Homo sapiens: one gene and its partners. The protein of the gene in region 3 interacts with the protein of the main gene of each other region in a pairwise test. Each region holds a gene or a part of one and is shown on either strand. Other genes may lie near its edges.

What was found.
Region 1: the proteins of ENTREP1 (region 3) and MYO6 interact in a two-hybrid assay, tested with the Homo sapiens proteins (one large-scale study listed by IntAct).
Region 2: the proteins of ENTREP1 (region 3) and GRIPAP1 interact in a two-hybrid assay, tested with the Homo sapiens proteins (one large-scale study listed by IntAct).
Region 4: the proteins of ENTREP1 (region 3) and SPRTN interact in a two-hybrid assay, tested with the Homo sapiens proteins (one large-scale study listed by IntAct).
Region 5: the proteins of ENTREP1 (region 3) and RNF168 interact in a two-hybrid assay, tested with the Homo sapiens proteins (one large-scale study listed by IntAct).
Region 6: the proteins of ENTREP1 (region 3) and RNF216 interact in a two-hybrid assay, tested with the Homo sapiens proteins (one large-scale study listed by IntAct).

The regions. Positions count from the first base shown.
Region 1 is NC_000006.12:75,881,739-75,885,238, reverse strand, and holds part of MYO6 (unconventional myosin-VI), read right to left. Parts: coding exon 3,421-3,500; intron 1-3,420. UniProt on the Homo sapiens protein: Myosins are actin-based motor molecules with ATPase activity. Unconventional myosins serve in intracellular movements. Myosin 6 is a reverse-direction motor protein that moves towards the minus-end of actin filaments.
Region 2 is NC_000023.11:48,981,765-48,985,298, forward strand, and holds part of GRIPAP1 (GRIP1-associated protein 1), read right to left. Parts: coding exon 3,504-3,534; intron 2,107-3,503; coding exon 2,011-2,106; intron 1,677-2,010; coding exon 1,464-1,676; intron 1,329-1,463; coding exon 1,215-1,328; intron 109-1,214; coding exon 31-108; intron 1-30. UniProt on the Homo sapiens protein: Regulates the endosomal recycling back to the neuronal plasma membrane, possibly by connecting early and late recycling endosomal domains and promoting segregation of recycling endosomes from early endosomal membranes.
Region 3 is NC_000009.12:69,328,208-69,331,741, reverse strand, and holds part of ENTREP1 (endosomal transmembrane epsin interactor 1), read right to left. Parts: intron 2,418-3,534; exon of another isoform or gene 2,043-2,417; intron 1-2,042. UniProt on the Homo sapiens protein: Functions as an activator of the E3 ubiquitin protein ligase ITCH in the ubiquitination of the CXCL12-activated CXCR4 receptor. Thereby, triggers CXCR4 endocytosis and desensitization, negatively regulating the CXCL12/CXCR4 signaling pathway.
Region 4 is NC_000001.11:231,348,265-231,351,798, reverse strand, and holds part of SPRTN (DNA-dependent metalloprotease SPRTN), read right to left. Parts: intron 496-3,534; coding exon 228-495; coding exon of another isoform or gene 193-227; exon of another isoform or gene 1-192. UniProt on the Homo sapiens protein: DNA-dependent metalloendopeptidase that mediates the proteolytic cleavage of covalent DNA-protein cross-links (DPCs) during DNA synthesis, thereby playing a key role in maintaining genomic integrity.
Region 5 is NC_000003.12:196,493,769-196,497,302, reverse strand, and holds part of RNF168 (E3 ubiquitin-protein ligase RNF168), read left to right. Parts: intron 1-831; exon of another isoform or gene 832-1,089; intron 1,090-3,534. UniProt on the Homo sapiens protein: E3 ubiquitin-protein ligase required for accumulation of repair proteins to sites of DNA damage. Acts with UBE2N/UBC13 to amplify the RNF8-dependent histone ubiquitination.
Region 6 is NC_000007.14:5,736,631-5,740,164, forward strand, and holds part of RNF216 (E3 ubiquitin-protein ligase RNF216), read right to left. Parts: intron 2,723-3,534; coding exon 2,646-2,722; intron 1-2,645.

The DNA of each region.
Region 1 (3,500 bases), on a different chromosome or scaffold from region 3:
CTATAATTTCTTATTCTTCTTAAAAATAAAAAGATGTTGAAAGATGTAATTTTGCCTTTGCAAAAATTACAACCAAGGAAATTATGTAAAAGAGATCTGACCTAACCAACTCCATCTTGCTTCTAACCTCTAAGCTGTCCTTGTTCATTCCTGGGTGTAGGCCGAACTAATCTTGGGAAAGAACTTAGTTTATTAAAGTTTAACTTTGAAACAAACATGATAATAACCCTTTCCCAAAATAAACCCCCTTCTTGCCTGGGGAACCAGTCAGCCTTTGTAGGACTAACAAATTAGCTCCAAGATTAGAAATTACGGTTTAGGAGCCACACAGCCTCCAGCTGCATGAATCTGAACCTCCTCAAATTGCTCCCAGGTATAACATCACAGTTGTAACACCTAAAATCAGTGCTCCAGATATTTTGCAGACCTTCCAATGCACCAGCTGATGCCACCTAGATAGGTAATCCGGCCCAGCCAGTTCTGTGCTCCCACACAGGAACAGAAGCAAGCAAGAAAAACTCAATTTTGACCCCCTATGATTTCATCTCCAACCCAAGCCCCTACCTACCAAATTATCCTTAAAAATTCAGATCTCCGAGTTTTCAGAGAGACTGATTTGAGTAATCATAAAACTCCAGTGTCCCGTACAGCCGACTCTACATTAATTACTGTCTCTCTACTGCAATTCCTATCTTGATAAATCAGCTCTGTCTGGGTAGTGGGCAAGGAGAACCCACTGGGCAGTTACAATATCATGTATCTGGTTAGGCTTACATTTTAAATGCATTATTTCCTTAGTATGCTACACTGCTACCTCCCAAACTGTCTTAGGCAACATTTGTTCTATGAAATGTGAATAGGTATGTCCTGAAAAAAGGATTTACCTGTCAAATGAGTTTATGAAAAGCTGTACACTATACTTCTGTATGGAGGTTCACAATGAACATACTGAGTGAAGCCTCTGAGAATCCTACAGCAAAGAAATCTACTTAACTTCAGTTACTCACAATTTCCTAGGATGATCTGACCTTGAACTTTTTTTTCAGAGTTTCCTATTAACATTCTGCAAAGATCCCTGCCCGGTTACTGACTTCGGTACCACTGTAGAACACAGTCCACAAATGAATGGTGTAACAGATGAGTTTACTATAATGTGTTTCCTATCATAATGCAATGTGTAAAGCTGAACGTATTAAACTACAGTAATAAAGATGTTTCTGTATTTTATTTGGAAAATGATGGGGAAAAGATTCTGCTATCTTTTTTCTTTTTATATTAATAGTTCTCTTTTTATCTATATTCACAATTGTCTAACAAAATACCTCAAAAATAATCTTTGTTAGCATGATTCTTTTTCATTAGGCCAAAAGAATTTTCCTTTTCTACTGATAAGGAAAAATTCGCTGGATCCTTTTCATGTACCTAGCACTATTTCAGGTACTCTGATGAGTATAAGGGGCAACTGTAAATGTAATCAAGTTACTGATTCCTACACAGCTCCCAACAATTAAAGGTTTGCCACAGATCCTTAGGTAACCCCAAAATGTTCTGTCCCTCACTTTTGTCTTGGGCCAGCTATGTAGCTGCTATGACCTGGCCAAACCACACATAAAAGCAGCTTAGCCCAGTATGTCAAAGGGGTTTGAATTCCTAATCCCAAAAGCCATAATCCCAAATGTTGAAATCCCAAAAGATCAAAATTCCTAGATTAAAATCCCTAACATCAAAAATCCTAAAAATCCCAATCAGAGGAATCACAGAAGAATTCCAAAAAGAGCAATCTCATGAAGAAAATGAATATGAACATATTCTCCAAGAACCATGTCCTAAAAGAAAAAAAGCACCTATTATTCGTGGTACAAGACTTCAAAATATAGTTAATGACTGAGAAAGACAGCCAGCTCTATGGACTATCTCCATGCAACTGCCTATAATCTGTCCCTGTGATACACTTTTTTTTATGTCAAACTTCCTTTTTAGTTTTGGGTGTTTTTTTTTTCTTTGTTTTTATTTTCACTATCTTAAATTGTTAGCATTTTTTAATTATGTAGAAATTTTTGGAGAGTTCTAATTTACTGTATTCATTTTTTGCAAATTTAACTCCATGAAAATGCATTACCACAACATTTACTTTCTGGGTAAACATTGTGTATGTATATAAAAACACTGAAACTTAATCAATGAACAGATGTCCTTTATCATACATCTGCACTTGTAAAAGATAAAATTTCTCAAGATTTCAGTTCTCTGGGCAACTACAAATGCAGTGGTGACTCACTATGGTTTTTGACTGATCTCATCAAAAGACAGCTTGTTCATCATCACAGTATTTCAGATGACTGCAGTAACAAAGCTGGGTGCACAATTACCAACCACAATAATATGTGTTTATGCATTTCACCTTTCGCCCTATTCTTTATGAATACGGTTTGTCTGCTCCTGTTATACCCATGCAACTATTGTTAGTATATGTGTTTATAGTTTCAATAAACATATATGTTTATTGCCTATATATATGTTATTGCCTATTTTATTGTGAAAAGTGGCCTATGAAGAGTTCTGTCATGTTTTTATACGTTTCTCAAATCCCCTTTTTAAAATGTAAATAAATATCTTTTTTTATTATTTTTACAGAATCCTAGTTTTGGGACTTTCATCTTTTAAGATTTCAACATTTGGGATTATGGTGTTCAAGACAGTGTCTTTCAGGATTATGACAGACTTCCGTTCAAAAAACAGGATTTAAGAGGGGATGGTGGGGGAAGAGACTGAAACAAAAAACTGACACACCATTTTACATGATCTTGAAAGACATCAAATAATTTAGACTTCACCTTTTATGAAAGGAAAGTTATAAAAGGCTTCTAGTTTAGAGAGATATCTCTAAGAAACCAGGAAAACCAGTCTGGGAGCTAATGGAATTATTATGCAAAAGGTGGAAAAGGACTTCACTAAGGCACTGGCAAGAAAAAGAAAGGAATGTACAGTATTTGGAGAAGGAATCAACAGGATCTGGTGACTGACAATATTTCAGGGATAAGAAAGGAAAATCAATTACAATTAGAATTTTCGGGGTATGTGTATTGTAGATGCCATGCAGGCAGAAAGAAAAGTTCTGGTTTAAGTCTGAGAGATTAGGGGATGGTGAGGGGTGCGGGGACGAGAGATCAAGATAGTGAATTCTGTTTTGTTAGGACACTATGAAACTGACACTCTTATAACACATTTGAATAAAGAAAATAAATATCATACACTCAAAAAATAAAAAAAGAAAGAACATCTACAAATAGGAACCTGGGACCCAGTGTGAACAAGTCTCAGTCTCTGTTGCTCAGCATCACCTCTGAGACAGCTTTACAACACTCCACAAACCATCTTGAAACAATGAAAGATCCTATAGGTGTAAAGGAAAACACCTACATTTGATGACTGAGAGTGAGCACCACTGAACTTTCTTCCAGCGACTGCATGTGAGCCAGTGATTGACTCTTTTAACCAAC
Region 2 (3,534 bases), on a different chromosome or scaffold from region 3:
GAGAGAGGAACACCATCATGCGAGAGGCACCTTCAGCTCGGCAGCGTGCTGCTCCCGACACTGCTTGAGGGCTTCCTCTTGTTCCTGCTGCTGCTGCTGCAGGGATTCCTACAAGACAAGTCCCAGGTCTGGCCACAGCCCCCCAGAAGGTATCATGCCCAGTTAGGGGTATGAGGGACTGCAATGGGGGCCCAGAGGTATGCAGAAATGACCCTCCTGCAGGGAACCCCACACGCCCTTAGGCAATATGCTGAAGTGTCACATCTAAAGTTGCACCATTCGCATGGTTGACTTAGATTTGCATTTACATTTTATTTTATTTAACAAAACATAGCGCTTACTACATGCCAAGAATGTTCTAAGGGTTTTACATATATTAACTCATTTTCTATAATCCTCCCGTAATACCTAGATGGTAGATATTATTGTTACCCCCTTTTTACCATTGATGAAAACAGGCCACAGAGAGGTCAGATAACTTGCCCAAGGTCACACAGCTAGGAAATGGCCCAGCCAGGATTCAAACCTAGACAAACAACTGGCTCCAGCCTGTGCTCTTCACTGCTACATGACAATGCCTTTCAGTGTATTATGAGATTTCCAGAAAATGGCAACAAAGGTTCTTTTTCCGAGACAGAGTCTCACTCCGTCACCCAGGCTGGAGTACAGTACACGATATCAGCTCACTGCGACCTCTGCCTCCTGGGTTCAAGTGATTCTTCTGCCTCAGCCTCCTGAGTAGCTGGAATTACAGGCGCCAGCCACCATGCCCGGCTAATTTTTGTATTTTTAGTAGAGACAGGGTTTCACCATGTTGGCCAGGCTGGTCTTGAACTCCTGACCTCAAGTGATCCGCCCACCTCGGCCTTCCAAAGTGCTGAGATTACAGGCGTGAGCCACCGCACCCAGCAGGTTCTTGTTCAATAACATCAGTGTATTGCATTAATTTCCTGACAGAAGTACAGTTTCAGGAGAAAGAGGTGCCTTTCCAAATTTGCACAAAGGCAGGGCAGCCTTAACACGTGACAGTCTGTCCTATCTGATGGCCATCCCCTGATCCACTCCAGAGGGCTGCTATTGAGCCAGGGGACTGTGGGGATATCCCTAAGTCCAGAAAATCTCGGGAAGTTCCAGGGCCTGACCACTCCTGCTTCTGTGGTTTGACATGAGGGCCCCAATCAGCCTCTGTTCCTCACCAGGCATCACCAACTCACCTCGGCTTCCTTCAAGCGCCGTTCAAACCAGCCCTTGGCTCCATCCATGGAATGTACCTGAGCTTGAAGTTCTTCCACTGTCTGCTGGAGAGTCTCCAGCTCCCGTGTCCGGGCCTGGGATGGGGCAGACTGTCATGGGCCAGGAAGGCAGAGGAGCGGGCACCTGATGCATGCCACCCACTGGCCTATCAGCAACGCTGTGGTTCCCAGGTTTTAGAGGAAGAAGGGCATCATCATCTACCCACCCACCTTCTCCTCCCGGATCTGCCCACGGAGCTCCTCCTCCTGACGCTTCTTGTCTTCATGCAGCTCTCGGAGCTCACGCTCATAGCGGGCACGCACCCCCAGCACCTCCTTCTCATGCCGTAGACGAACTGCTCCCAGCTCTTCCTTGTGCTGGGACTTCTCTTGCAGCGTTTCCATTGCTAGCTCATCCAGCATGGCCTTCCGCTTCTCCGCACTCTGGGGGCCAGGACGATGGCAGTCAACTTCCTTCCACAACATCGAAAAAAGGCCTCCAACCCTCTTCCCATGCCCAAGGAACTAGCCAAACTCCACTCCCTCCCATCCCCACTGAACTGGCTAAGGCACTCACCCATCCTTATAGAACTGGTCACTTTCTTTCTTTCCCCTCCCACTCTCATGGATTTGGCCAAGAAACTGGTCAACCAGAAACCAGTCAATTTTCCTTTCCCTCCTATCCCCACATGTTTGGTTATATCACCTCCTCCCATCCCCATGGACTGAGCCAATTCCTACCCCCCATCCTCTCCCTTCAACCCTCATGTTCCCCTACCTTCCGAGCCTCCTGTAATTCCTGGGTCAACTGCTCCTTCTCCTGCCCTATTTCTTGAAGTTGTTCCAGCAGTCGACTATTGGCCCGTAATGACTCCTAATGCAGACACCAAAGGGAAAGAGTTTGATAAAGAGCATCCAGTAGGTGCTAGTCACCCAGGACCATCTGGTAGACCATCTCCCTTCTCCCTGGTAAAGTTGGTATTGTGATCTCAATTTCTGGATAGGAAATATAGCAGAGACTGCTAGTTGCTCCCCAGTATTCATTCTTCCTTACTTCCCTAGCAATAAAATTTATCATCGGGCATACAGCTGTCTAGCAGATGTTTCCCCTCCTCCCTTATGGTTAGGTGTGGCCATGTGATTTATTTCTGTATGTGGAAGTGGTGAGTGTAATTTAGGTTATGCTCTTAAAGGAAAGGGGCACACTCTTCCCTGCCCCTTTCCTCCTTCCTTCCAGATAGAATACAAACATGATGGTCGGGGAGTTTCAGCAACCGTCTTGGATGCCAAGATAAAAGTCTTGTGTTGAAGGTGGAGGAACAGCAATGGAGAAAGAACCTGGGTCACAGATGACTGGAAAGCCATCATTCCATCCCTGAATAACCTACCTGGACTTTTAATGAGAGGGAACTAAATTTGTATCTTATTTAATCTACTATTATTCTGGTTTCTATTATGGAATCAGAATGGATATTGCTTGGGAGGCTGAGCCGGGTAGATCTCCTGAGGTCAGGAGTTTGAGAAGCCTGACCAACATGGTAAAACCCCGTCTCTACTAAAAATACAAAATTAGCTGGGCGTGGTGCCAGGCGCCTGTAATCCCAGCTACTCCGGAGGCTGAGGCAGGAGAATCGCTTGAACCCAGGAGGCGGAGGTTGCAGTGAGCTGAGATCGCGCTACTGCACTCCAGCCTGGGCAACAGAGTGAGACTCCATCTCAAAAAAAAAAAAAAAAAAAAAAAAGGAGCCGGGCGTGGTGGCTCACGCCTGTAATACCAGCACTTCGGGAGGCCGAGGCGGGCAGATCACGAGGTCAGGAGATCGAAACCATCCTGGTTAACACGGTGAAACCCCGTCTCTACTAAAAATACAAAAAATTAGCTGGGCATGGTGGCAGGCGCCTATAGTCCCAGCTACTCGGGAGGCTGAGGCAGGAGAATGGCGAGAACACGGGAGGCGGAGCTTGCAGTGAGCCGAGATCACGCCACTGCACTCCAGACTAGGTGACAGAGCAAGACTCCATCTCAAAAAAAAATTAAATTAAATTAAAATTTAAAAAATGAAAAAGAATTGATATCCTAACTAACTGAAGAGGCTCAGTTTCAGAGAAGTGAAATGACTTGTCCCAGAACACACAGGTGCTAATAAGTTAGGGAGCCAGACTGGAACCTAGGTCCTCCTGACTCCAGTCTTCCCACTCCACCTTACTGGGGACTTCACTGGGCCATTACTAGGGAACTAGGAAGAGACAGGCCAGAGCCAAAGGTGTTACCTGGAGCTGGGAGTTGAGGTCATCTTTCTGT
Region 3 (3,534 bases):
ATGAATGGAGGCCAGAAACAGGAGATGACATTGCTCAAAGATGACTATGTAAGACTAAACACACTTTTCATCCCCTGTGCTTCCTAAAAGAGTACAGCAGCAACAAAAAGCAACTCCATCAGCATTCTTTCCATCCAGCGCAAGATGAAACTTGCCCTGAATGAACAGGTAAGAACCTATTTTCTAACACCAAACAATCTCTATATTATTATGAGAGGTATTACAATTTTTGTTTCACTCACTGATAACCTATTTCTTGTAGCTTACAGGAAAAAGCAGAGGGCTTTCCTTTTTTCTGAGACTGCAAAGAAGGGCTCTGAGATACCCCAGGGAAGAGTCATTGTTACCCACCATAAATGGTTAATGTGCTTTCATTTTCCAACGTAAAAACCAAATCGTTAAGATCAGAAGCTTATAATTCTACTGCCCTATTTCCCTTTGCTAATCCATTAACTTGTATTAGGGCAAAAATGTTCTGAATCATTTATCAAAAGCTGCTGTATGTAAACACAGAGATTTTTAAAAAGCCATGTTGTAAATGTCCTGTGTTACTTTGTAAATAAGCAGAAAATAATATGTCAAACTTCTCAACAACCTACCCTGCCCTATAGCTCTTACAATGGCAACTTTTTAAAAAATGTGTGTGTATGTGTGTGTATTTCTTCCCTATCTGTCTAGCACAGCTCATTAAAAAAAACAAATTGAGAAAGTGGGCAACTGAATATTTCTAATGAAAACATGATGGTAACTATAATGTCCTACAAAAATACTGGCCTGTTCATTTTACTTTGATTAACTATTACCTCGGTATTTAAAAACCATTGATACAGGTTCCCGTGTATTCCAGGTCTGGTGCTTGGGTCCAGCAGTGATGCACTCTCCTATGTATACTCTAGCTACACCCTGACAAAATCAGCACTGAAGAAGAAGAAGCATCCCACCCATTTGACAGATGAGTAACTGAGGCCAAGAGGCACAGAACTTATAAAGGTGACTCTGCTGATATGCAAAATAAAGGACCAAAGAAATCAATAAAACTCATCCCCAAAATTATAGTTTAAATATCCCTTAAATATTAAAGTAGTATTTGATTAGTATGATAAAAAATATTTACTATCATTTAACTGGTAGTAACCATAATCTTTATGTTAGTTTTTCGTTTAGTCCATTGATTTTTCTTTATGTTTATTCACTGCGATTTTTTTTACAAAGGTTCACCCTAAAGTTCACCAATGTCTGTCTCTTTACGTGAAAGTAGAACCTTGCCAAAGAATCATGGACTCAAAGGATGATCATGAATTTAGATCAGTGACTTAAAGCACAGACATAGATGTATACAACTGATAAAGAATAATAGGGCACTCAGAGAGGAGTAAAAAACAACAACCAATTCTCTACCACTCATCTGAAATATCTCCCAAGGATCATGCATGTCATCAAAGGTAGGAATTTTGTTTCTGAAGGAGGAGAGACAACCCAATGCAACTCTCTCTCCTCTTTCATTAAATCTAGTGCAGTGTGGCCGACTGAGTCTCCCATACCCCAGTGGAATCTACTTAACCCCAGTGGAACCTAGCTAACTCCCTTACCCAGTGGAATCTAGTTAACATTAACTCCCATACCCCAGTGGAATCTAATTAAACCCAGTGGAACCTAGTTAACTCCCATACCCCAGTGGAATCTAGTTAACATTAACTCCCATACCCCAGTGGAATCTAATTAAACCCAGTGGAACCTAGTTAACTCCCATACCCCAGTGGAATCTAGTTAACATTAACTCCCATACCCCAGTGGAATCTAATTAAACCCAGTGGAACCTAGTTAACTCCCATACCCCAGTGGAATCTAATTAAACCCAGTGGAACCTAGTTAACTCCCATACCCCAGTGGAATCTAGTTAACATTAACGCCCATACCCCAGTGGAATCTCGTTAACTCCCACACCCCAGTGGAATCTAGTTAACACTAAACGCACCCCCCAAACCGAGAGCTAGGACAGCACAGCTGAAGACAGACACTGAGATCCTCCCTTAGCCACTCACCTCCAGTCAAATGCCAGGTTGTTTTTCAAGATGGCTCATCTCTTAGCTTCACGAATTTTGGGAATAATAATATATTGAGTGATTTACCGGTGATACCAGGAAGAAATCAAATGCTCAGAGTGCTCAAAAACACAGACTACGTTAAAAACTCTCCCTTCAAGTTGCTGAAAGTATGAATGAAAACTATGAAAAAAGATGCTTTATAGAATTTGTTAATTCTTAAGTGTTTTTTAAAATAGATAAAATATACCTTCAAAGTTCAAACAAGTGAAAGAAGCCTCCAAAATCTCAGGCTCAGGGCTCTCTTAAGGAAATACATATGAAAAAATATCCTTGAACTATACTGTGTTCAACAAATAGTCATTTCAAATAAATATATTTGTCTCTTGAACCTAATTTTGTATCAAATACACAAGCAAAATTTTCAGTGAAGCCTAAAGAAGATGTGTGGGTTCAGTTGATATAGCAGGCTAAAGATCCTAATGGTCAAAGCTTGAAATATGAGGATATTCTTCTACTGTGTTCCTATGTGGGTTTGAAGTAACCTTAGACATAAGTTGGCACTTCCATTCAACTACCTAGCTTCATATGCCAATAAAACTTGTGAGTGAATAAATAAACATGGCATATCCATACAATAAAATAGGAATGAAGTACTGAGACTTGCCGCAGCATGGATGAAGCTTGAAAACATGCTAAGTGAAAGAAACCAATCATAAAAGACCACATATTATATGATCCCTTGTATATGAAATATCCAGAACAGACATATCTACAGAGACTGAAAGTGGGTTAATCAGTGGGTGGCTAGGGGTGGGGGTGGTGGAGAATGAGGAGTAACTACTCAAAACTTTAGGGTTGATAAACATTTTCTAAAATTGTGGTGATAGTTGCACAACTGTGAATTTACTAAAAACCATTGACCAGTACACTTTAAATGCTAAATGGGTAAGTTGTATGGCATGTGAATATATGTCAAAGCTGTGTTCTTTTTTAATTCTGCAGTTCTCAACTCATAATCTTCCAACTTTTTTTTTTATAGAAACCTTAGTTTAGCTGTCTTTGAATTAGTTACAATGTCCTATCAAGCCCATTTCTTTTATAAGTACATACTAAAATACTAATGGCTGAAGTTGTGATACCTGGAATTTGCCTTAAAATAATCCAGGGGTGTTAGGAAGGGGGAGCAGCGTTAGGTATAAAGTGGCCATGTGTTGATAGCTACTGGGTGAAGGGTAAAATGCGGGATCATTACACCCTTCTTTCTACATTTGTTGAGTTTTTAAATTTTTATAATAAAAGATTTAAAATTGAAGGGAATGGTTCTTCGGACTGCCCACTCAATCCTATGCTGGTTATATTTTCTTGTGATAAAAATACACACATTGGAATATATACAGATGAAATGTGACACCTGAGATTTGCTTCCAAACAATAAGAGAATTTAATCTCACAAATGGACTAGGGAGCACGAAGGATCTAATTCCCACCC
Region 4 (3,534 bases), on a different chromosome or scaffold from region 3:
ATCCATGGAAACTATTCCTACTTTTACTTACTTCTGTACAGAGCAAAGTCTGTTTTCCTACCATCATTTCATGGACAGTGGGATTTTTTCCTTAAGTCTACACTTGAAGACTTCTACACCAGAAACGATCCTTAAGTTTATCTTAATACCAGTTCTCTGAAGGACAGTATTGTCTTTACATCATAGCTATGGTCACATAAAAATCAGAAGAATATACACGAAGGTACCTTTATTCTCTGCGGCCAATACTGGTTCCTTTCCTAGTTTTGCCTTTCCTTTGCCTTTTTTTGAGTAATTCTCTGGTTCCTTGATTTTTATGTAAGTGCCTCCACAGGTTTTCTGGTGCTCAGCCCACCAATAGTCATGAGCAGAGGGTTCCCTGTTAGTAGCTCGTTTGACATAGCCGTAATACGGTGGCCTGTGCTGGCACGGCCCATTGCAGCGCCACCAGTGTCGCCGATACTCATCCACCTCATCGTGAAAAGTATGGTATACCTGAGTGGAGACAGAATTTTTAGTATTCAATAAGCAAGTTAACAACTGCAAGAAAACAATTTACATAAGCAGTCTTTTTTTTTTTTTTTTTTTTTTTTAATTTTTGAAACTTTCCCAGAGCTTTCTGAAAAGTTCTATTTTAGGAGAGAAAGCAACTATATTTAGTTTCTGTTCAAAAGTTGATTTTAATGGGAAACAGCAGCAGTTAATACTTCATAAACTGTGTAAAGATAGATGCACATGGGATTAGAGGACAAAAAAATCTTTTAAAAACAAAACCACAGAAAATCTTCATGAACACTAAAAGTTTCAGAAATCAAATTTGTAAATGATCAAAAATTAGGATAAAGATAAGATTTTATGTAATACCATACTAAAATAAGAATCATTCCCACTGCTAAATTGAAGTTTTCCCTATAAGTAAAAATAGCAAAGGGTTCTAAAGGACTACATTACTCCCTATAAATGCCTGACTGACGCTAACAACACAAGTATCTTACCCAGTGAAGCTTCTGCTAAGCTCACTCTCCACATTCTCCAAGTTCTGTGCTTATGTCTCTGTAATAAGCCTTATGAGGTACCATTTTATCTGTTTATAAATATTTCTATTACCAGACTGAAAAGTTCTCCAGGATCTGAATGTTTTAATTTTTTGTGTCCCTAGTGGCTAATATAGTGCTTTTGGCACCAAGAAGGTGCTCAGTCAGAAAAGCATCATTCATTGAGTCAAATAAAATTCTCTGAAGTGTGCTTTTCAGGCCTTAAGTAGGATGCCTTCTTTTTCACCCTCTAGACAAAAATCCTATTTGGAACCCAAGCAGAAAACAGGTAAGGGAAAAGACCTGACTGAAAAGAGGGTCAGCCCTCCCAGCATGGTGGCACTGAAGACTATAGAGCACCATTTGAAATGACTCCTAAATGACTATGGGCACCTTATTCTTCTGCCTTCTCAGTGGAACTCTCTGTGTAAGAGTGAGAAGCATCTGTATGTAAGATTTTGGTGTTTTACCAAAGACATTTAGCTTTCTAATAAATTCCCCTTGTGGGAAAGAATGCTAAGCTTTCTATAACTCTATAGATAGTTTTAAACTCACTATCGCTCCATCCTAAGCAAAAAATTTCTACTTGGTAAGCATGCAAAGAATGCACATTATATTAAATGCAGAAGGGACTGAAGGACATAGGTTTTAAGGCAAAGAAGCACGGGAAACCACGCACTCTATTATGTTCAGAACTCTTAATTCATTACCCAAAAAGAGAGACAAATGGATCTGTTTTGTTTGTTTGTTCTGTGACATGGACTTGCTCTGTTTGCCCAGGCTGGAGTGAGGTGGCATGAACCTGGCTCACTGCAACCTCCGCCTCCCAGGCTCAAGTGATCCTTCCACCTCTGCCTCTCGAGTAGCCGCGAATACAGGCGTGAGCTACCACGATTAGCTAATTTTTGAATTTTTTTTGTGGAAACAAGGTCTCACTAAATTGCCCAGGCTGATCTCAAACACCTGGGCTCAAGTTACCCTCCCACTTCGGCCTCCCAAAGTGCTGGGATTACAGGCGTGAGCCACCACACCCAGCCTGGATCTGTTCTGCTTCCAATTCCTGTAACTCCTAACGCTTGGGAATGTGACTTTTAACAATGTAGTCACTAAAATAAAATTACTCTACAATGTAGATACCCTGCAGAGTTCCTTATAACAGGATGTAACCTGTAAAAGCAAGGAGTGTTCACTCCTTACAACCTCTCCTAAATAAAAACACACAGATATCTAAGATAAAAGAACAGATACTCTTCCAGCTGAACAATGGGACGTATACAAGGGCTTTGCTTAAAGTATAAGTTCTGGTTAAGAAACTTAATGTATTTTATACAAGCAAGTCTATAATTCTCTTGCTAACCCGGATTTTATGTCTGATTTTTTTAAAAACTGCAAGACACTTTCCTAATGTTGAAGTAACTGTGTCTAATAATGAAATGAAGTCTTTAGAAAATTAAAACTGATAGCTAGAAAATAGTAATACATGGAGAGGCCAGGCATGGTAGCTCATGTCTATAATCCCACCACTTTGGGAGGCTGAGATGGGAGGATCACTTGAACCCATGAGTTCAAGACCAGCCTGGGCAACATGGTGAGACCCTGTCTCTAAAAAAAAAAATTTTTTTTTAAATTAGCTTGACATGGTGGCACACATCTGTAGCCCCAGCTACTCAGGAGGCTGAGGTGGGAGGATCACTTAAGCCCAGGAGGTTGAATCTGCAGTGGGCTATGAATGCACCACTGCATCCAGCCTGGGCAACAGAGCAAGACCCTATCTTAAATAAATAAATAAACAAAACATGGCGGTTGAGCACTGTTCATTTTCTATCACAGTGGATTTTGTTGCCTTTTAAAGGAAGGAAATACCCAAACATAAGAAAGAATTTAATCTATCCTATTAATATTCAATTCAGTACATTATACACCTTATACAGATGTACTATAAAGATGGGCAAGACCTACCCTGCGTTCAAAAGTATGAAAGTAGCATAAAAAATTGTAATAGCTTAAATATCTGCTGAGGATTCAAAAGAGGGAGAAATGAGATGCCACTGGAACGATGAAAAGCATTCGGACACAAAACAGAGCAGTGGCACGCCTCAGGGAAGCTACACCTGAGGAAAGGCAGGGAGGTCAAAAGTGCAGTTAAAGAGACAGGACACAGGCAGCAGAGTTGGAGGCAGTAAAAAAGGAACAAGGTTATTTAATAAAATGAATACAATAAAACTAATATTTAATTAGTGTCAGATTGGGCTAAAATGTTTTGATGTGCTTTCTCCTTTAATCCTTTCTCCTCACAAGGATCCAACAGATAGGTATTGTTACTACTCTCATTTGCCATGGGTATAAAATGAGGCATAGGAAAGTTAATAATTGGTGGAGCCAGGATTTGAATCCAAGCAGCCTGACGCCTCCAGCTTTTTGAACCTGAGGCTTTGCTATCTCCTACAATGCTATACAGAGATATGAATCAAAGAAGAATTCTGATGAGGGAATGACATCT
Region 5 (3,534 bases), on a different chromosome or scaffold from region 3:
CCATATGGGTATCAGTTATTTCTGTACCTTTTGTTGAAAAGACTTTTTAAAAAAAATAATGTGGGTCTATTCTATTTCATTGATCCGTTGATTCTAATATTAGTGTCACACTGTCTTGATTACTGTGACTTTAGAGTAAATCTTTTTTTTTCTTTTTGAGACAGAGTCTTGCTCTGTTGCCTAGGCTGGAGTGCAGTGGCGTGATCTCAGCTCACTACATCCTCTGCCTCCCAGGTTCAAGCAGTTCTCCTTCCTCAGCCTCCTGAGTAGCTGCGATTACAGGCATGTACCACCATGCCTGGCTAATTTTTGTATTTTTAATAGAGACGGGAGTTTCACCACATTGGCCAGGCTGGTCTCGAACTCTTGACCTCAGATGATACTCCTGCCTCGACCTTCCAAAGTGCTGGGATTACAGGCGTGAGCCATCGTGCCCGTCCTCCGTATATTTATTCTTTGTATGTAGAGACGGGGTTTTGCTATGCTGCCCAGGCTGGTCTTGAACAGCTCACCTCAAGCAGTCCTCCCGTCTCAGCCTCCTGAAGTGCTGGAATTACAGGCCTGAACCGCCACACCCAGCCTATTTAAATTTTTCAATCAACTTACCAGTTTCTACTAACAGCCTGTTAGGAGTTTGATTGGGGTTGCATTGAACTTAATAGAACAATTTGGGGAGAATTGACATCCAAACAGCAACAGAGTCCTTGTATCCATGAAAATAGTATATTTCTCTGTTTGTGTAGGTCACCTTCAATTTTTTTCAGTAATGAAGTTAAAATAAGGTCATTAGAATGGGCCCTAATCCATTATGACTGGTTTCCTTATAAAAAGGAGAAATTTGGACACAGAGACAGACACGCACAGAAGGAAGATGATGTAAAGACACAGAGTACCACGTGAGGCTGGAGGACTGGAGTGATGTATTTACAACCCAAGGAACGTCTAAGGTTATCAGCATACTGTCAGAAGCAAGGAAGAGGCAAGGAAGGATCCCCTACAAGTTTGAAAAGTGTCATGGCCCTGCTGACACATTTATTTTGGACTTTTAGCCAGAACTGTGAGAAAATAAATTGCTGTATTTTCAAGTCACGCAATTTGTGGTACTTTTCTATGGTGGCCCTAAGAAACTAATATTTATCCCTAATTATATTATGGCTTTTGAGACTGTTTTAAGTAAATTTTAAAAAATTTTCAGTATTGTTCATTGATAATTTATAAAAATATAATTGGTGTTTCTGTGTTAACTTTGTTAACACATAATACATAAAGTGAATCTACTCATTTACTTTATGTATTTTTAATTTATGGAAGGAAGGTTGTAAGAAAGCACATATGAGATAGCTTTAAAAAATGAAGTATTTGAAAGTGAATTAGTGTGACGGAGACAGGTGTGTTTTACATTTGGATTTCTCAAAAAAGAATCCTATAGTAGGGAAGAATCAGCCTTAGAATGTCTAAATTTCCTTTCTGTTTGCGACTGTCACTGTAAAAATTGATGCAGGCAAGAATTACAAACGGATGCCAAAATCCCTGCTTGAAAATTTGCCGGAGAACGGAGGACTCATATAGTCTGAAAATATCATCTTACAGATTGCTTATTAATTACAAAGGGTGAAGGATACAGTCGAGAAGCCTGTTACCACAGTAATGAAGTGATCACAGTTAACGTTATCCATGGAACAAACAAACATTGCGGTCCTCCTGATAGGACGAGTATAAGGCATAACCTGAATCTAACTGTGAGAAAACAAAAACCCAAATTGAAATTCTACAAAACGTAGTTGTTAGTACCTCAAAAATGTCAGTGTCATGAAGGCAAAGCCTTAGGAATCATTCTAGTTGAAAGGGAGATTAAAAGAGAATGACAGCTAAATGCAGTGCATGACCCTGGATTAGAACATGGATTAGGACAAAGGTTGTTATTAAAGACATGGGGATAGTTGGTGAAATTTTTATCATTGATATGATGGGTAATATATCAATGTTAATTTTCTTGAACTTGATCATTGTATATCAAATCAAGAGATAAGGACAGCATCTCTTATGAGGTGGACACGTAAGGATTTGGTGAAGGGTTATGATCATGCAACTTTCAAATGGTTCAGAAAATACACACACACACACACGAAAGGCAATGTGGCAGTTTAAAAACTTCATGAATCTAAATGCAGGTTAAACGGGGGTTTATCATACTATTTTTGCAATTTCTGTAGATTTGAAAATTTTCAAAATAAATATTGAGGCAGAAAGTGCAAATTTAGTTTATGTTATTTTATTTTCGAGACAGGGTCTCACTTAGTCGCCCAGGCTGGAATGCCAGGGAGCGATCTTGGCTCACTGTACCCTCCACCGCCCGGGCTCAAGCAATCCTCCCACCTCAACCTCCTGAGTAGCTGGGACCACAGGCACACACCACTACGCCAGGCTAATTTTTTTATTTTTTGTAGAGATAGGGTCTCACTATGTTACCGAGGCTGGTCTTGAACTCCTGAGCTCAAGTGATACTCCTGCCTCATCCTCGCAAAGTGCTGGGATCACAGGTGTGAGCACTTTGCCCCTGATTGCCATTTATAGCCACACTACTTGGTGATGATCCAGCCACACTGATGTACATACTGCTTCACAAATCATATGCTTATTTTCCAGAGCAACTTTGGGCTTTTTATTTTTTAACTATCTCTTTATTTTGTACCCTGTGCCCAGCCCAGGAATGCACATTTAATTGGGAGAAGGAAACTGCCATTTACATGGAGCTGCAGTCTAGTTCAGTGATGGGAGGGCAGTTTTATGAACAGCTCAACTGTTCAAGTTAAGGCTTATTATTTATTTTTATTTTTCATCCAGTATTATACATTCAGGTCTTTAACTAACTTGAATTTTTCCTTCAAAATAAAATAAAAAGCATGGGGACATATTTCCTTAAATGAGTCCTGGCCGCCTAGGAAGACCACTTGCTGCGAAGAAGCAAAATATCGAGTAGAGTAGGAATGTTTAACCGAAGTGGGTTTCAGCAGAAATTTTAGAGTTAACCAGAACTGAAGAGTGTCGAGAGTTGTTTCCAACAGATGGCAAAAATTGTATAGTCACTTTAAGACTATAAAACTGAGATATTCAAATTTCTTATAAAATTAGAGTTGTTTAAGAAATAGCAAACAGGCCAGGTGCGGGGGCTCACACCTGTAATCTCAGTACTTGAGAGTTCAAGGCAGGCAAATCGCTTGAGCCTGAGAGTGTGAGACCAGCCTGGCCAATAGGGCAAAACCGTCTACAAAAAATACAAAAATTAGCCGGGTGTGGTGGTGGGCGCCTGTAGTCTCAGCTACATGGGAGGCTCAGGCAGTAGCATTGCTTGAGCCTGGGAGGTGGACACTGCAGTGAGCTGAGATTGCACCACTGCACTGCAGCCTGAGTGACAAAGTGAGACTCTGTCTCAAAAAAAAAAAAAAATAAATTTAAAAAAAGAAAGAAATAGCAAATGGAAGGCTGGGCACGGTGGCTCACACCTGTAATCCTGGCACTTTGGAAGGCAGGTGG
Region 6 (3,534 bases), on a different chromosome or scaffold from region 3:
TGAGGAGCGCCTCTTCCCGGCCACCATCCCTTCTAGGAAGTGAGGAGCGTCTCTGCCGGGCCACCCATCATCTGAGACGTGGGGAGCGCCTCTGCCCCGCCGCCCCATCTGGGATGTGAGGAGCGCCTCTGCCAGGCTGCGACCCCATCTGGGAGGTGAGCAGCGTCTCTGCCCGGCCGCCCCGTCTGAGAAGTGAGGAGCCCCTCCGCCCCGCAGCCACCCCATCTGAGAAGTGAGGAGCCCCTCCGCCCGGCAGCCGCCCCGTCCGGGAAGTGAGGAGCCCCTCCGCCCGGCAGCCGCCCCGTCCGGGAGGTGGGGAGCACCTCTGCCCGGCTGCCCCTTCTGGGAAGTGAGGAGCCCCTCTGCCCGGCCGCCACCCCGTCTGGGAGGTGTTCCCAACAGCTTATTGAGAACGGGCCATGATGACGATGACAGCTGTGTCGAATAGAAAAGGGGGAAATGTGGGGAAAAGATAGAGAAATCAGATTGTTGCTGTGTCTGTGTAGAAAGAAGTAGACATAGGAGACTCCATTTTGTTCTGTACTAAGAAAAATTCTTCCGCCTTGGGATGCTGTTGATCTATTACCTTACCCCCAACCCAGTGCTCTCTGAAACATGTGCTGTGTCCACTCAGGGTTAAATGGAATAAGGGCGGTGCAAGATGTGCTGTGTTAAACACATGCTTGAAGGCAGCATGCTTGTTAAGAGTCATCACCACTCCCTAATCTCAAGTACCCAGGGACACAAACACTGCGGAAGACCCCAGGGTCCTCTGCCTAGGAAAACCAGAGACCTTTGTTCACTTGTTTATCTGCTGACCTTCCCTCCACTATTGTCCTGTGACCCTGCCTAATCCCCCTCTGCGAGAAACAACCAAGAATGATCAATTAAAAATAATAATAATAATAATAATAATAAATAAATAAATATAAATCTGATGACAGTGGTTGCCTCTGTACAGAGGTGGGATCAGACAAGGCCACTAATGGCTCCAACAGTGTCATTGTACAAATTAGAAAAAAGTACCTACATTGGGCTAAGCACCTGGAAAGGGGCCCTTCCTTCTCAGCCTTGGCAGGGAAGAAACTCACCTGCAACCTTGACTGAGAACTACAGTATAAGATAGGAACTTTGGGGAAAGGTGTTTAGTGAACTATTTTGTTTAAATTTACCACCAGGCTGAGCACGGTGGCTTATGGCTGTAATCCCAGCACTTTGAGAGGTGGAGGTGAGCAGATCATGAGGTCAGGGTTTCAAGACCAGCCTGACCAACATGATGAAACCCTGTCTCTACTAAAAATACAAAAATTAGCCGGACAGGGTGGAGTACGCCTGTAATGCCAGCTACTCAGGAGACTGAGCAGGAGAACTGCTTGAACCTGGGAGGTGGAGACTGCTGTTTAAGCCAAGATCGCACCACTGCACTCTAGCCTGGGCAACAGAATAAGACTGTCTCCAAAAAAAAAAAAAAAAAAAAAAAAAAAAAATTACAATTATTTCACCTCTGCAGATTAGAAGGAGGGGAAAGAGTATATTTTTCATTTTATATTCTTCAGGAAAACTTATTTTTTAAAAAAGCATATTTACCACTTATAAAAAATTTTTTTAAAATAAGAGACAAGGTCCCACTCTGGCTCCCAGGCTGGAGTGCAGTAGCGTAACACAGCTCACTGCAGCCTTGAATTCCTGGACTCAGGCAATCCTCTTGCCTCAGCCTCCCAAAGTGCCAGAATTAAAGGTGTGAACCATATGTCTGGCCCGTATTTATCCCTTTTATAATGAAAATTAAGAAATATGGCTGGGAGCGGTGGCTCACACCTGTAATCCCAGCACTTTGGGAGGCCGAGGCGGGTGGATCACGAGGTCAGGAGATCGAGACCATCCTGGCTAACATGGTGAAACCCCATCTCTACTAAAAATACACAAAATTAGCCAGGCGTGCTGGCAGGCGCCTGTAGTCCCAGCTACTCGGGAGGCTGAGGCAGGAGAATGGCCTGAACCTGGGAGGCGGAGCTTGCAGTGAGCCGAGATCGCACCACTGGACTCCAGTCTGGGAGACAGAGTGAGACTCCGTCTCAAAAAAAAAAAAAAAAAAAAAAAAATGCTTCCATGTATTTCTCCAAACAGAGTGGTTGCAGAACATTTTGTTACAATCGTAGGGAAGAAAATGTCTTAACATCTTGACTAAAACACAGGTAGTATCAACGCTTAGAAACAACTCAGTTATCATAATTCTATAACCATGCAGTATTCCATAAAATCCAGAAAACAGTCTGTGTATCACTAATGTCAGAACGAACAAGGTCATTAAAAAAGACATAATGCCAAGTGAAATAAGCCAGTCAGAAAAGAACAAACACATGAGGTCCCTGATAGTAGCCAAATCCATATAGAAAGAAAGTAGGATGGTGGGTGCCACTGGCTTGGGAAGGGGATGGGGAGTGAGTGTTTAATGCGGACAGAGTTTCAGTTTGAGAAGATGAAAGAGTTCTGAAGATGGATGGTGGTGATAGTTGCATAATAATGTGAATTTACTTAACAACACCAAATTGTATATTTAAAAATGATTAAAATGGTAAATTTTTTATTACATATATTTTACCACCACCACCACCACCACAAAAAAAGCATGGTAGTATACTTACACATTCAGATCATAATAATTCTTAAAATGAATTATTTCCTCAATAAACCCATTTGCTACATCTGGAAATCTTGCTTCCTAGAAACAAATAAGAACATAATTTATATTTCATTCACTAGAATGGTTTCAAATGGCAATACAAGACAGATGGCAAAAAGTATAATAAAATGACTAAAGACTAGAAAAGGGCTGTGAAGCAGGTCTGTGTGTGTCTTCAAATTCAACACTAGTTCCCAGATTCATCTGTCTACATAGAAGATGAGGTCTAGAAAGGTCTTGAGAGATCTGGTTCTCTGTCCCCATTTTACAGATCCATTCTTCATTGCTTCAACAAATATTGAGCATCTCTGTCTAGACAAAGGGAATCCAAACACAAATAAGTTACAATCTCATGCCAGCCCTCAAGCAGCACACAACCTAGTGCCTAGATAAAAACACCTGGGTGGCCGGGTGCAGTGGCTCATGCCTATAATCGAAGCACTTTGGGAGGTCGAGGCAGGCGGATCACCTGAGGTCAGGAGTTCAAAACCAGCCTGGCCAACATGGTGAAACCCCGTCTCTACTAAAAAAATACAAAAATTAGCCAGACGTGGTGGTATGTGCCTGTGATCCCAGCTACTCGGGAGGCAGAGACAGAAGAATCGCTTGAACCCAGGAGGCGGAGGTTGCAGTGAGCTGAGATCGCACCACTGTACCCCAGCCTGGGTGACAGAGTGAGACTCGGTCTCAAAAAAAAAACAAACCAAAAACAAAACAAAAAAAACCCGCCTGGGTAAAGTAGGGTTAACGGACTTGTTTGAAGGCAAATAGTGGCTACCAGATGTAACACCTTTTTTTTTTTTTTTTTTTTTTTTTTTTTTTTTTTTTTGTGAGATAGAGTCTCACTCTGT